3 separate regions of the Homo sapiens genome follow, and regions 1 and 2 are each linked to region 3. The links come from fine-mapping of genetic effects on gene expression. A gene starts in region 3. Each other region holds a variant in brackets. All regions are shown on one strand. Distances are from middle to middle. Region 1 overlaps EPB41L4B (erythrocyte membrane protein band 4.1 like 4B). Region 2 overlaps FRRS1L (ferric chelate reductase 1 like). Region 3 holds the start of FRRS1L (ferric chelate reductase 1 like).

The links. PIP is the estimated chance that this variant, and not a neighbour inherited with it, causes the effect. A credible set is the group of variants that fine-mapping cannot tell apart.
Region 1: its variant is the best candidate, but not a certain one, in a credible set for the expression of FRRS1L in tibial nerve (GTEx, PIP 0.87).
Region 2: its variant is the best candidate, but not a certain one, in a credible set for the expression of FRRS1L in prefrontal cortex (ROSMAP, PIP 0.71).

What each region holds. Positions count from the first base shown.
Region 1 is chr9:109,195,966-109,200,206 of GRCh38, reverse strand. The region is part of intron 20 of EPB41L4B (erythrocyte membrane protein band 4.1 like 4B); the gene reads left to right. It also overlaps the pseudogene RNU6-984P. Among named protein-coding and RNA genes, the nearest start is that of FRRS1L, 31 kb to the right of the region's middle. The variant C/A (reference allele first, on the strand shown) is at 2,451.
Region 2 is chr9:109,128,254-109,132,494 of GRCh38, reverse strand. It overlaps FRRS1L (ferric chelate reductase 1 like), which reads left to right. Exons shown (of 5, transcript NM_014334.4): 5 at 1-2,202. Among named protein-coding and RNA genes, the nearest start is that of TMEM245, 10 kb to the right of the region's middle. The variant A/G (reference allele first, on the strand shown) is at 1,776.
Region 3 is chr9:109,165,538-109,169,761 of GRCh38, reverse strand. FRRS1L (ferric chelate reductase 1 like) reads left to right here and starts at 2,513. Exons shown (of 5, transcript NM_014334.4): 1 at 2,513-2,861. The coding sequence starts at 2,624.

The DNA.
Region 1 (4,241 bases), 30 kb before region 3:
AAAACAACTATGATGACTAATTGTTTAGATACAAATGCTTCTTAGCCCTTCTGACTAGTCCCAGGGAGCAGCCCCCAAATTCCATTTATTTCCAATTTAGGTAATAATGAGACTAGCCCTTTCTCCCTGAAAACCTTACATAGTTAGCATAAGGATTCATTATTGACTACTGTGTAATAAATTACTCCCAAACTTAGTGTCTTAGAACAATCCACCTTTATCACCTCACAGTTCCTGTGGAGTGGGGGTCGGGGCATGGCTTAGCTGGGTCTTCTGTATCCGGGGCTCTTACAAGGCTGCATTCAAGGTGTCAGGGCTGCGGTCTCATCTGCAGGCTTGTTTTTACGGTTGCTGACAGGGATCAGGTCCTCAAGGACTCTTGGACAGAGGATGCCCTCAGCCTGTAGTCACATAGGTCTCTCCAGCCTTCTCCATCAGAGAAAGCACATAAGAAGAGCCAGAGAGAGTGACAGCAAGGCAAAGGCACAGTCTTTTGTAACCTACGCACAGAACTGACATCCCATCACTTTTTTTCTTTTTGAGACAAAGTCTTGCTCTGTCGCTCAGGCTGGAGTGCAGTGGTGTGATCTTGGCTCACTGCAATCCGCCTCCCAGGTTCAAGCAATTCCCCTGCCTCAGCCTCCCAAGTAGTTGGGATTACAGGTATAAGCCAATAAGCCTGGCTGATTTTTGTATTTTTGGTAGAGACGGGGTTTCACCATGTTGGCCAGGCTGGTCTAGAACTCCTGACCTCAAGTAATCTGCCTGCCTCGACCTCCCAAAGTGCTGGGACTGCAGGTGTGAGCCACCGCACCTGGCCCCCATCACTTTTGCCATATTCTGTTCATGAGAAGCAAATCCCTATGTCCAGCCCACACTCAAGGGGAGAGATTACACAGGGGCATGAATACTAGGACGGGGATCATTGCAACCCACATCAGAAGCTGCTTTCCACGGCATATCCATGAAAAGGCAGCCCCGTCTGTCAACAGAACCAAAGCTAATCACTGAGCTTTGACACCTGTAGGAGGAGCCATTTCCCAAAATGTCCCAGAATCACCAGGGCACATGTGCACCTGACTGTTCTAGGCATCGTTAGGGAATAGTAAAGTGACTTTGACAATTCCCATCCAAAGACTCACACTTTACTGGAGGGAAAGACAAGAGTCACAAATAATTATAATCCAAAGCAGAAAGATAATTGCTGTAATCAGGGTGGTGAGTACTAGTAATAGTTGTAGTACTGATCACAATGGTATTTCCCTTTTTTTTTTTTTTTTTGAGACAGAGCCTTGCTCTGTCACTCTGTCACTCTGTCACCCAGGCTGGAGTGCAGTGGCACAATCTTAGCTCACTGCAATCTCCACCTCCCGGATTCAAGCAATTCTCCTGTCTCAGCCTCCCAAGTAGTTGGGATTACAGGTGCCCGCCACCACACCCAGCTAATTTTTTTGTATTTTTAGTAGAGACAGGGTTTCACCATGTTGGCCAGGCTGGTTTCGAACTCCTGACCTCAAGTGATCCACCCCACCTTGGCCTCCCAAAGTGCTAGGATTACAGGCATGAGCCACCGTGCCCGGCTTGTAGTTCCCATTTCTTGACCTTAGCTATGGCATGGGTACTGTGCCCAGATGTGTCATTGGTCAGAGAGTAACTGCAGGGGGATCTCTGGACGAATGAAAAGGATGGGGGCTTTGGAGTTGGAAAGGCTTCTGTCAGGCCCCTGGCTAGTTTACAGCTGTAAGCTCTTGGAAAAGTGACTGTTTGATCCTCTCTTCCTTCCTCTGTAAAATGGATGAGATAATACCTGCCTCTGAGGAGTTTTGTGGGGCTTAACATGAGAGAATGTGGGTAAAGCCCCAATACCCTGGCCATAGGATGAGGTCCCCTTTCTTTCTTCTCTAGGACCTGGAAGCTTCTGAGGAAAGATGGAGTTTAGGGGGTACCCAGAGTGCAAAATGTAGGACAGGACACGGGATTCTGGATGCAATTCTCTAACAGCCATCTCAGGTCTGCCATTTGTACCTGTGAAAAGGAAAAGAGGCATGTATGGGGGATATTAAGGGAGATATATCCCACCTCATATCCTTCATAGAAACTTCTGGTCAGCTGCATTTCCTAGGAAAGCCAAAACGAGTAAAGTTCAAATAATTAACAGTCCTAATGATCTCTGGGGGACAATTAAGCCATGACAGTTTGCTTCCCTCGAGGATAAGACTGGCAGAACTTGCCATTCCTTTTACATTTTGAAACTCAAAATGTTACTATCACTCATTTGAGAGATGTAATCATGTTTGAAACAATGACTGGCTGATATATAACCTGGAAGGAAAGGAAATTTCACTAACTCACCAAACTCACTCTTTTTTTTGTTTTTTTTTTTTTTTGATACAGAGTCTCACTCTGTCGCCCAGGCTGGAGTGCAGTGGCACAATCTCGGCTCACTGCAA[C/A]CTTCGCCTCCTGGGTTCAAGCGATTCTCCGGCCTCAGCCTCCCAAGTAGCTGGGACTACAGGCACATGACACCATGCCCGGCTAATCAAACTGGCTCTTTTAAGGACACTCTTTTTCAAACCTTGAACTTTACATGTGTATTTCTTAAGCTGCCCCAAAGTATTCTGCTTTGAAAATCAAACAATAGCAGCATTTTCCCCATTAGTAGAAAATAGCAACATCCATGGATGAGATTTTCCCAGTGTTATTGTCCCATAAAGAGTTCTCGAATCCTTGACGCTGGCTACCGCTCATTTGCCCATCTTTTTATTATTATTATTATTTTATTTTTTTGAGGTGGAGTCTCACTCTGTCACCCAGGCTGGAGTGCAATGGCTCAGTCTTAGCTCACTGCAGCCTCCGCCCCCTAGGTTCAAGTGATTCTCCTGCCTCAGCCTGCCGAGTAGCTGGGATTACAGGCGTGTGCCACCACGCCCAGCTAATTTTTGTGTTTTTAGTAGAGACAGGGTTTCCCCATGTTGGCCAGGTTGGTCTCGAACTCCTGACCTCAGGTGATCCGCCCGCTTCAGCCTCCCAAAGTGCTGGGATTACAGGCATGAGCCACCACACCTGGCCTTTGCCCATCTCTTTAACTCTTTGATATTGATAAAGTTGGCACGTGATCAAGGAATATAAATGGGAAAACTCAGATCTCTGATTTTCTGGAAAATATTTTTTACATCATCATTTTTGAGATACAGATTTGTGTGCACACATCGCCCTTTTGGCTGTTGTAATATTTCTAGTTCCTAGGCTGGAATAAGGTGTAGTCAGATTTTAGGTTGCTCCACCAAAAGCATTGTAACATTCAGGTGCTGTGAACAAGTCTTCAAACCACTGCTTTTAAAGATACAGACAAAAATCTCAGCCACATTATTTCCTGGAAATATGACAAGGAGGGAAAATGTGGCTGCTACATGCAGTGAGAATGGAGAAGTAGAGGGTCTCTACAGAGAGTTTAAGGCAGGCGAAAAGGTCTTTTTTTTTTTTTTTTTTTTCGGAGACAAGGCCTCACTCTGTTGCCCAAGCTGGAGTGCAGTGGTCGATCACAGCCCACTGCAGCCTCAGGTGATTCAGCTCAGGTGATCCTCCCACCTCAGCCTTCTGAGAAGCTGAGACTACAGGTGTGTGCCACCACATCTGGCTAATTTTTGTATTTTTTGTAGAGACAAGACCAGACCATGTTGCCCAGGCTGGTCTCGGACTCCTGTGCTCAAGCAATCGCCTGCCTTGGCCCCCCAGAGTGCCGGGATTACAGGCATTAGCCTCTGTGCCCAGCCAAAAGTGTCATTTTTTATTGATACCAGCTAGTATGTTTAGAAAATCATGAGCTATTTTATTTTTTTCCAGAAATATAACTTCACTGTTTATTTAAACATAGTGTAAAAGTCTAAAAAAAATTCAATAGTGCTCACTTTGGCATCACATATACTAAAATTGGACTCATACAGAGAAGATTAGCATGGTCCCCCTGCGCAAGGTGGACATGCAAATTTGTGAAGCGTTTCATATTTTAAATTTTTAATTAAATAATAAAATATTTATAAGTTAATTAAAATATTTAAAGAAAAGAAAAAAAAGTAAATAGGCAAGACAGAAGAGAAAAGTAGCCAATTTCCCAGAATCAAAAATAACCAGGGTTCATAGTTGACGACTGTTACATTAGACAAGTTTCTATGCTTATATATTGTTAAAATAGAAACAACTTCAAAGCAAAAAATCATTCTGTATGTAAAATTTTACTTATGAAA
Region 2 (4,241 bases), 37 kb after region 3:
ATAAATGGCACAGGGCATCTCATGCTCTTGCATTCTAATATATTTTCTGGAATTGATGCAAAAGTGGTGGCAGTAAAGTACAGAGCCGGCTAAGCAGCAGTTTTGTCTTAAGTAACTGTGGTGATCATGGACAACCATTGCGCTGAACTGCTCTTCATGGTAAGGATTTCAGTGTTTCAGAGTAATTCATTAACCTAGAGATGTTTTAAAAAGTTGTATCGGCCGGGCGCGGTGGCTCAAGCCTGTAATCCCAGCACTTCGGGAGGCCGAGGTGGGCGGATCACGAGATCAGGAGATCGAGACCATCCTGGCTGACACGGTGAAACCCCATCTCTACTAAAAATACAAAAAAAATTAGCTGGGCGTGGTGGCGGGAGCCTGTAGTCCCAGCTACTCAGGAGGCTGAGGCAAGAGAATGGCGTGAACCCGGGAGGTGGAGCTTTCAATGAGCCGAGATTGCCCCTCTGCACTCCAGCCTGGGTAACAGAGCAAGACTCCGTCTAAAAAATAAATAAATAAAATAAAATAAAATAAAATAAAAGTTGTATCAAAATCTGCTGCACCATGGGAGTGTTTTACACATGTGATGTGGCATCTACCTTATGTACCATAATGGAAAAATGTTTGAGAACCACTGCACTAGGCCAAAGGCTGGGATGTGTATACTTTGCTGCCGTGTATAATTGTATGTCCTTGTTCTCTAAACGGAATTGGTTATGTTTAGTGAACAGTTAGGTGGTTCTCCATGTGTTTATATACACAGACGATCCCCGAATTTGGATGGTTCAACTTAAGAGTTTTCAAACTTACGATGATATGAAAGTGATATACATTTGATACATTCCTACAACTTACAATGGGGTTATGTCCCATAATTGTTTTGACTTATGATATTTTCAACTTACAATTGATGGGTTTACTGAGACATAACCCTCTTGTAACTTGAGGAGCATGTGTATATTTGTACATACATGATGGTGTGTGTTTATACACAAAGGCCTGAATATACACACCATGAGCATTTGAAGGTCTTTGTCAAGGTTGTTTCTGTTTCTGATCTCTTGCCTACTTTAAAACCCAAGAGGTAGAACATTATGCATATTACAGGCAAAACTATGCTTGAGTTTATAGCAATGTAGTTTGTAGAAAGGATTCCTGGATGTTTTACTAAGCCTTTCCTCCTCCATTCAACATTATATGAATTGTTAAGAACATATAAAGTACCACTGTTGAATGTGACTTTTCTATACTGTTAGTTAAGAAACCAAGACTAGTGTTAGCTGAGTAACTGGCATGTTGATGCAACCTATACAGGTTTTGTATTTAATTAGGTTCCTTATTCAGTTATTCAAGTATCCAGTTATTTAGTTTCAAGGTAGATTTCTTTGTTTTTATATTTAATAAAAGACTTGCATATAAGTTCCTCTTCATGAAAATAGTGGCTAGGCTAGTGTGATTTTAAGTATGTCTGGCAACTCAAAATGTAATGGATTCATCAAGCTATTTGGGATTTTTAACATAAAACACACTGCTGCTTGATTAATGTGTTCAGTTTTCCCCTGGATATTTGCTATTAGGCTGATAGCCATTTGGTTGGATTCTTCTGGAGAGTAATTGATTCTCTAAGGTAATGGGGTGCTGCAGTGGGTGTAGCATTCACCCAGGTCACTAGAATCCTACCTGTTTCATCACATAGAAGGCCCTGGCCATGGGGAAGAGTGAATGCAGCTTCTCCGGATGCCTTATTTCCACAGACATGCTGATATGCTGGAACA[A/G]TCTGGCTCCAGGAGTATTAATATACTTTTTTGAGACTGTCTACAAAATACTATTTTGTAAAAACTATGCCTTTACATAGACATTGATAGGTTATATTTGTTTTATAACAATTGTGTACCTAATGTTTGTGATTAATTTTGAGATTTATGTATATTTATAAGCCTATCTTATGTAAATTTTTACTCTAAGATGTGTGGCACATTACTAATAAAGACGTGGATTTCTATTTATGTAAAGTAATTGTAGCAATATTCCTAGATGCTACCTAAATGATTGTTCTGTCCATTTGCCATCACAAATACTTTTATCTTTGGATGATTATGTTAGTCAGAATATATTAATTAGATTTAAACTTTAAAATAAGAATTACAACATAGTTTGAAATTCTTCCTGTTGATGTAATTAAAGTTAGTTTATAATTCCTTATTGCTTTGCTCTGGTGCATTTTTCTTTTCTGTTTCTGGTTTTAAATCTTTCATCAGTAAAGTCACTCTCATTTCTCCCTGAATCTATAGACCTTGGAGAAGACGATAGCCTGTCTTGTCTGACAAAGAGGAAAATCATTTTGCTGTCATCAGGTAAAAATTCCCGTAGAGAAACAATCTGTAAAATAATCTTACATTTATAGCTTTGGTTTAATACTTTATTAGGTAGTGAATGGAGGCCTATAATCCCATTTCAAGTGTATCAGTTGGTTAATTGCACATGGCTAGCTCTAAGAATTTCAATAATCAGCATTATTGGCAACTAAACCATATAATATTTTGAGAATAATTAGAGTTTAGTTGTAGAGCATAATGAATCACCAGGGAGGTCGTTGAGCTGCCAGTACTACAGGGGCTAGCTTGAGAAGATCAAGGAATGGCATGTTAAAAAAGAATCAGGCATTACCACATTCTGCATTCAAAGCTCTAATTTTCACCAAAAAAAAAAAATTCAAATATTTTGTCCTTTGTTTAGTATTCTGCTTGTTCCGTGTAGTATTTATTTTGCAGTATCCTGAGTGGACAGCCCAGCTATCAAATCTGATCCTGGCTAATGTTTGACTTGGAGATTTCTTAGGGCTCAGTCGCAGGTACAAGGATCAGATGATAAGCTATAAGAAGAGACAGAGGAACTGCAATGGACATGAGAGCCACCTGCGTCCAGGAGGTTAAGAAGCTTTAACCATTCATTCATTCATTCAATCAATCAATATTTATTTATTTATTTATTTATTTATTATTTTTTTAGGGTCTTTGTCACCCAGGCCAGAGCGCAGTGGCACGATCAGAGCTTACTGTAGCCTCAACCTCCTGGGCTCAAGCGATCCTCCCACCTCAGCCTCCCAAATTGCTGGGATTACAGGTGTAAGCCACTACACCCAGACAATAAATATTTATCGAAGACTCTTATGTGCTCGTCCTTGTGCTAGACATTACACAGAGAGGACTCTAGGAAGAACAGTTCTTGATTTCTGCCCCCACCCTGGGGCTCACCCTGGGGGCCTGTTTGGAGAGTCAAACACACACCATGACAGTACCTTGTGGTGAATTCAGTGGTAAGGAAAAGCTCAGGTCTGATGCTAAACCTGAGTGGAGGTCCTCACCCAGCCTGGGGCAACTAGGAAAGCAGGTGGTGATACTGAAGTGAACCTTAAGGAAGGGGTGCTGTGGACTGAACATTTGTTCCTCCCAAATTCATATGTTGAAACCCTAATCCCCAATGTGGTGGTATTTGGAGATGGAGCCTTTGGTAGGTAATTGGGCCGTGAGGGTAGAGCCCTCATGAATAGCATTAGTGTCCATATAAGAAGAGACAGGAGAGAATTTGCTTCTTTTCTCCACTCTCCACCATGTGAGTACACAATGAGAAACTGGCCATCTTTGAACCAGGAAGAGGGCCCTCACCAGAACCCAACAATGCTGGCGCCTGTTCTCAGGCTTCCCAGCCTCCAGAACCATGAGAAAGAAATTTTTGTTGCTGAAACCAGTCCGTCTGTGGTAATTTGTGGGAGAAGCCTAAATTGATTAAAACAAAGGGGTAGAAATATGTTAGGCAAAGGGTGTACAGGGGCATCACCAAGAAAGGGGAGAACAACCCAACAGCCTCAGACGAAAGACCAGCAGGATGTATTCTGGAACCATTGTCATCTGACAAGGCTTATCTTAGTTTTCTATTGCTCCTGAAAACAGTTTCCACAAACATAGTGGTTTAAAACTACAGAAATACATTTTCATACAGTTCTGGAGGCCAGAAATCTGAAGTGAATCTTACACAGCTAAATTTAAGGTATTGGTGGCGGGGCCCAGTGGCTCACACCTGTAATCCCAACACTTTGGGAGGCCGAGGTTGGTGGATCAGTTGAGGTCAGGAGTTCGAGACCAGCCTGGCCAACATGGCAAAACCCCATCTCTGCTAAAAATACAAAAAATTAGCTGGGCGTGGTGGCAGGCACCTGTAATCCCAGCTACTCGGGAGGCTGA
Region 3 (4,224 bases):
AAAGTAAATTAAAAAAAAAGTTGAACATGGAAAAAATAATTCATAAAAAAAGCTATGGGTTTTCTCCCTAGAAAAACCCATACATCACAACATTATTCCAGCACTTTCATAAGGTCCTCATATCACCCCTGAAGCCTATCTGTGGCCCCCTGTGAGTCTACATGAGTAGAGAGAGAATTGAAATCCACAGTTTACCTGCAAACTTCATTTTAGGCTGTAGTTGTAAACCGTCCCCAAAATACCCAAATACCCCCATAAAAACAATATAGAAAGCCCACGTGGTGGTGGTTTTTTTTGTTTTGTTTTGTTTTTTTGTTTGTTTTTTGTTTGTTTTTTGAGATGGAGTCTTGCTCTGTCGCCCAGGCTAGAGTGCAGTGGCCTGATCTCGACTCACTGCAAGCTCCGCCTCCCAGGTTCACGCCATTCTCCTGCCTTAGCTTCCCGAGTAGCTGGGACTTCAGGCGCCCGACACCATGCCCGGCTAATTTTTTGTATTTTCAGTAGAGACGGGATTTCACCGTGTTGGCCAGGATGGTGTCGATCTTCTGACCTTGTGATCCGCCCGCCTCGGCCTCCCAAAGTGCTGGAGTTACAGGCGTGAGCCACCGTGCCCGGCTGCCCACGTGTTTTTATATCAGATTAATTTACTCGGAGAAGAATGGCCTGGTTTTCATTTGCCTTCTATTTGGGCACCGTTATTGTTAATTTCAGTAACCAAAATGAAGGGAATAAAAAGGAAAGTAAGAGGTAAAAGCTTGTATTCCCAAACCAGAGAATCTACACTGAAATCAAAAGTCTAATGCTTTATTTTTTTGGCTAAACTTTGGTCCATTCTAAGTTGACCATACCTTCCCTGGTGAACAGAAAGAGAAGAAAAGAAAATAAAGAAATTTTAATTTTTAAGAAAGGTTTAAGGTTTTTGTTTTTGTTTTTGTTTTTTTTTTTTTTTTTGAAGGACTACACTTTAACAGATTTTCAATCTGTTGGATCAGCTTTTTTAGAATGTTATGCATTGCCACGCTATGCTTTTTGGGAAGAAGTCTCTTGAGTTTTTAAAGTAATCATAGTTCATCTTACCTTTTTCAAATAATCTGATCTATTTTTTGTGACAACTGCTATGTTGGGGGACCTAGTGAAGCCCAAGGTTTTCATGAATTACACCTCAATTCAGCCATCAGGATTAATATGTTTAAATTCCAGTTGGACAGCCCACTGTTAGCTGATACCTAATAGAAAATACCTGACTTCTAAGTCCCCCATCATGTCTCCCCTGTTTCAACAGCACTACCCTTATCTCTCAGCCAATCAGGCCATAAAGGGTTAAGATCACTAGTTTCCTTTTGAATATTAACATTTCACAATATTGTGTACATGTGTGCATGCCACTTACAGCACTGAACCCTATTGATCCTTACCTCTATGATCTTCCCTAATCTTCATTGCATCATGTCAATGACTAATCATGAGAGATCAGGCAGTCTGACTTCTAGGTCTGCATTTGGGACCTCTATGCTTTTCTGCCTCCATAATTATTTTGTTTATGCAATAAAATAAAATAATAAAATAGGAAAAGCAGGTTAAAATGCTGGCTCTGCAACACCAGCCTGAAAGGAATTGCGTCCGCCTCTCTGATGGAAAACAGCTTAGCAATTCGAATATATCACCCCAACAACCATCATCAAAAGAGAACCCTGGGACCTGCCATAAAGCAAATGCTTGGTGTGAATCAATGGATGGCTGAGTAAATAGCCAAAAGTGAACTGCAAGCAGCAGGAATGGATTTGAGAAAAATCAACAATTCAGCATGGCCCTCAGATACGGTGTGGGCCTTCCAAGGCCTGCGCGTGCTTGCTGCAGGGAAAGAGAGTAAACCAGAAGCCTAGTTTTGAAGGGGAACAGGTTACCTACTGGCACCAGCCTCTGTTGATTACACACCGCAAGAGCCTGGAGAGGAAGCAGGTGAATCCAGTTTTCTCTGTCTCTAAACACCTCAGTTTACCTAGCTCTATTGTGGGGGTCTTGCAATTTCAAGTTCCTTCTGTGATGATCCAAGAAATAATAGGTCTAGCAAGTGCTTTATGTAAACCAAAAAGTGCCGGCACAAGGTTGAGGAGGCAGCACTGACCAGGTGTGTCCAGGGTAAACTCTCTAGAGGAGCGTTTCATAAATTGAACGTGCATTGGGATCTCCTGGGAATTTTGATGAAATGAACATCCCGCTTCATGGGTCTGGAGTGGGGCCTCAGCGATGCTAACAAGCTTCCAGGTGATGCTGATGCTGCCGGTCCGCGGACCACACTCCGGAGTAGCAAGGGGCCAGAAGGGCCAAATCTGCCTGCGTGGAGGGAAGTCGGGGAGATGGGGAGAATGGAAAGAAGGACGGTAGAAGGGAAGCTGCTAGGAAGGAGAGATCGGTGCGGGGAGGAGGGGGGTTCCAAGAAGAAGGGGGAGGCTGCGGTGCTGGAGCGAGGATGCGCAGACCGAGGCAGGGAGGCGGGGGTGCGGGAGGCTCCGCGGCTGCGCGGGCGCGTGCTGGTGGCCTCGGCGGAGGCTCAGTCCCGGCCCGCGCCCGCGGCGCCCCCGCTGCGGCCCGAGCGGCCTGGCTGCGGGATCTGTGCGCACGGATGGCGCGGCCGCCCCGGCAGCACCCGGGGGTCTGGGCGTCGCTGCTCCTGCTGCTACTGACGGGGCCCGCCGCCTGCGCAGCCAGCCCCGCGGACGACGGTGCGGGCCCGGGGGGCCGGGGACCCCGGGGACGCGCGCGGGGGGACACGGGCGCCGACGAGGCGGTGCCGCGCCACGACTCCTCCTACGGCACCTTCGCGGGGGAGTTCTACGACCTGCGCTACCTGTCGGAGGAGGGTGAGGCTGCGGGAGGGCGAGGGGTTGCGGGAGGGGAGACCGGGGGTGGGGGACCGAGGATCGGGGGAACGAGGAGAGGGGGCGAGGGAGGGGGAGGGGGTCGGAAAAGATGTCCGTGGAGGCAGCTCTTGCAGAGGCGAGGCCAGGATGGGGAGCGCAGTGCCCAGGCCTCCGCCGGCCTGGAGGAAAGGCCCAAAGAGCTGTCAATGCCTGCCGCCCGCTTTACAGATGGGGAGAGTGAGGCTGGGAGAGGGAGGGGTCATCCAAGTTCTGCAAGGCTGTGGATAGGGGTGGGTGCTGAGTCTAAGCTCCCCCAGTTCTTAGATCTGGCTTCCACCTTTGCCGCCTGGGGTTGGGTTATAGGGGAGGAGGCCGCCATCTGGCCAGGGCAGCTAGGGGGAAGCAGAAAAACCCCAACCTAAAGAGAGAGGTTGCCTTATTTCCTCCCTGTCTGTATTGACTTAAATTTGCAGTGACCAGCGCCCACCTCGTAGCATTCTGTTCCTGCTCACTGACCCGTCAGAGCTGGGTCACATCAGCCTCCCCACTCCCATCCCTCCTCTTTTATGACGCCACATATGTTATGGTCCCCTAGTGCGAGCCACCATTGTTGTGGCCTGCTGGGCCCGCAGACTGGGAGTTTGTCAGCCAAGGGCCTCCCTGTAGAGCTGCTTCAACGAGCACAAAAGCCAAGCGGATGGTGGTCAGAAGGAATGGAAACTGGCCTCTTTAAGCAACTTTGGGAAGTAGTGACTTTCCTTTTCTTCTGCTAAGAGGGATATCCAACCATCAAGCTGGGGTTTGAAGTGTTGAGTCCCAGGAGCTCATATCTGTTAGTGGATGTGTCTGTTGTTAGGATTAAGTTCAGCTGTATACAACAAGCAAACATTAATAGCTTCAACAAGATAGAAGTTTCTCTCTTACAGAAAGAAAACTAGAAATAGGTAATCCAGAACTGGTCTGGAGGCTCCTTGGTCACCAGTGTCTCTGGATCCTGCCCTTCTGTTTCTTCACAATTCTTAGCATGTAACTTCATGGTTCAAAATAACTGCTTGAGCTACAGCCATTATGTTCACATTCTAGACAGTGGGAAAAATGAAGCAGGAAGAAGGTCACTGACTACTTTATAAAGGGATTACTCGGAAGTTTCATATAACAATTTTTATACTTCTTTGGCCACAACTTAATCATATGGTTGCACATAGGTACAAAGGAGGATGTAAAATAGAGCCTATTAGCTGAGACATAATATGCCCAGTTCAAAAATCAGAATTATTGTATTAAAGAAGATGGAGAGAATGGATTTGGGGAAATGTATTAAGTAGAGGCTTAACTGCTGAATTAGAGATTTTAACATATAGTG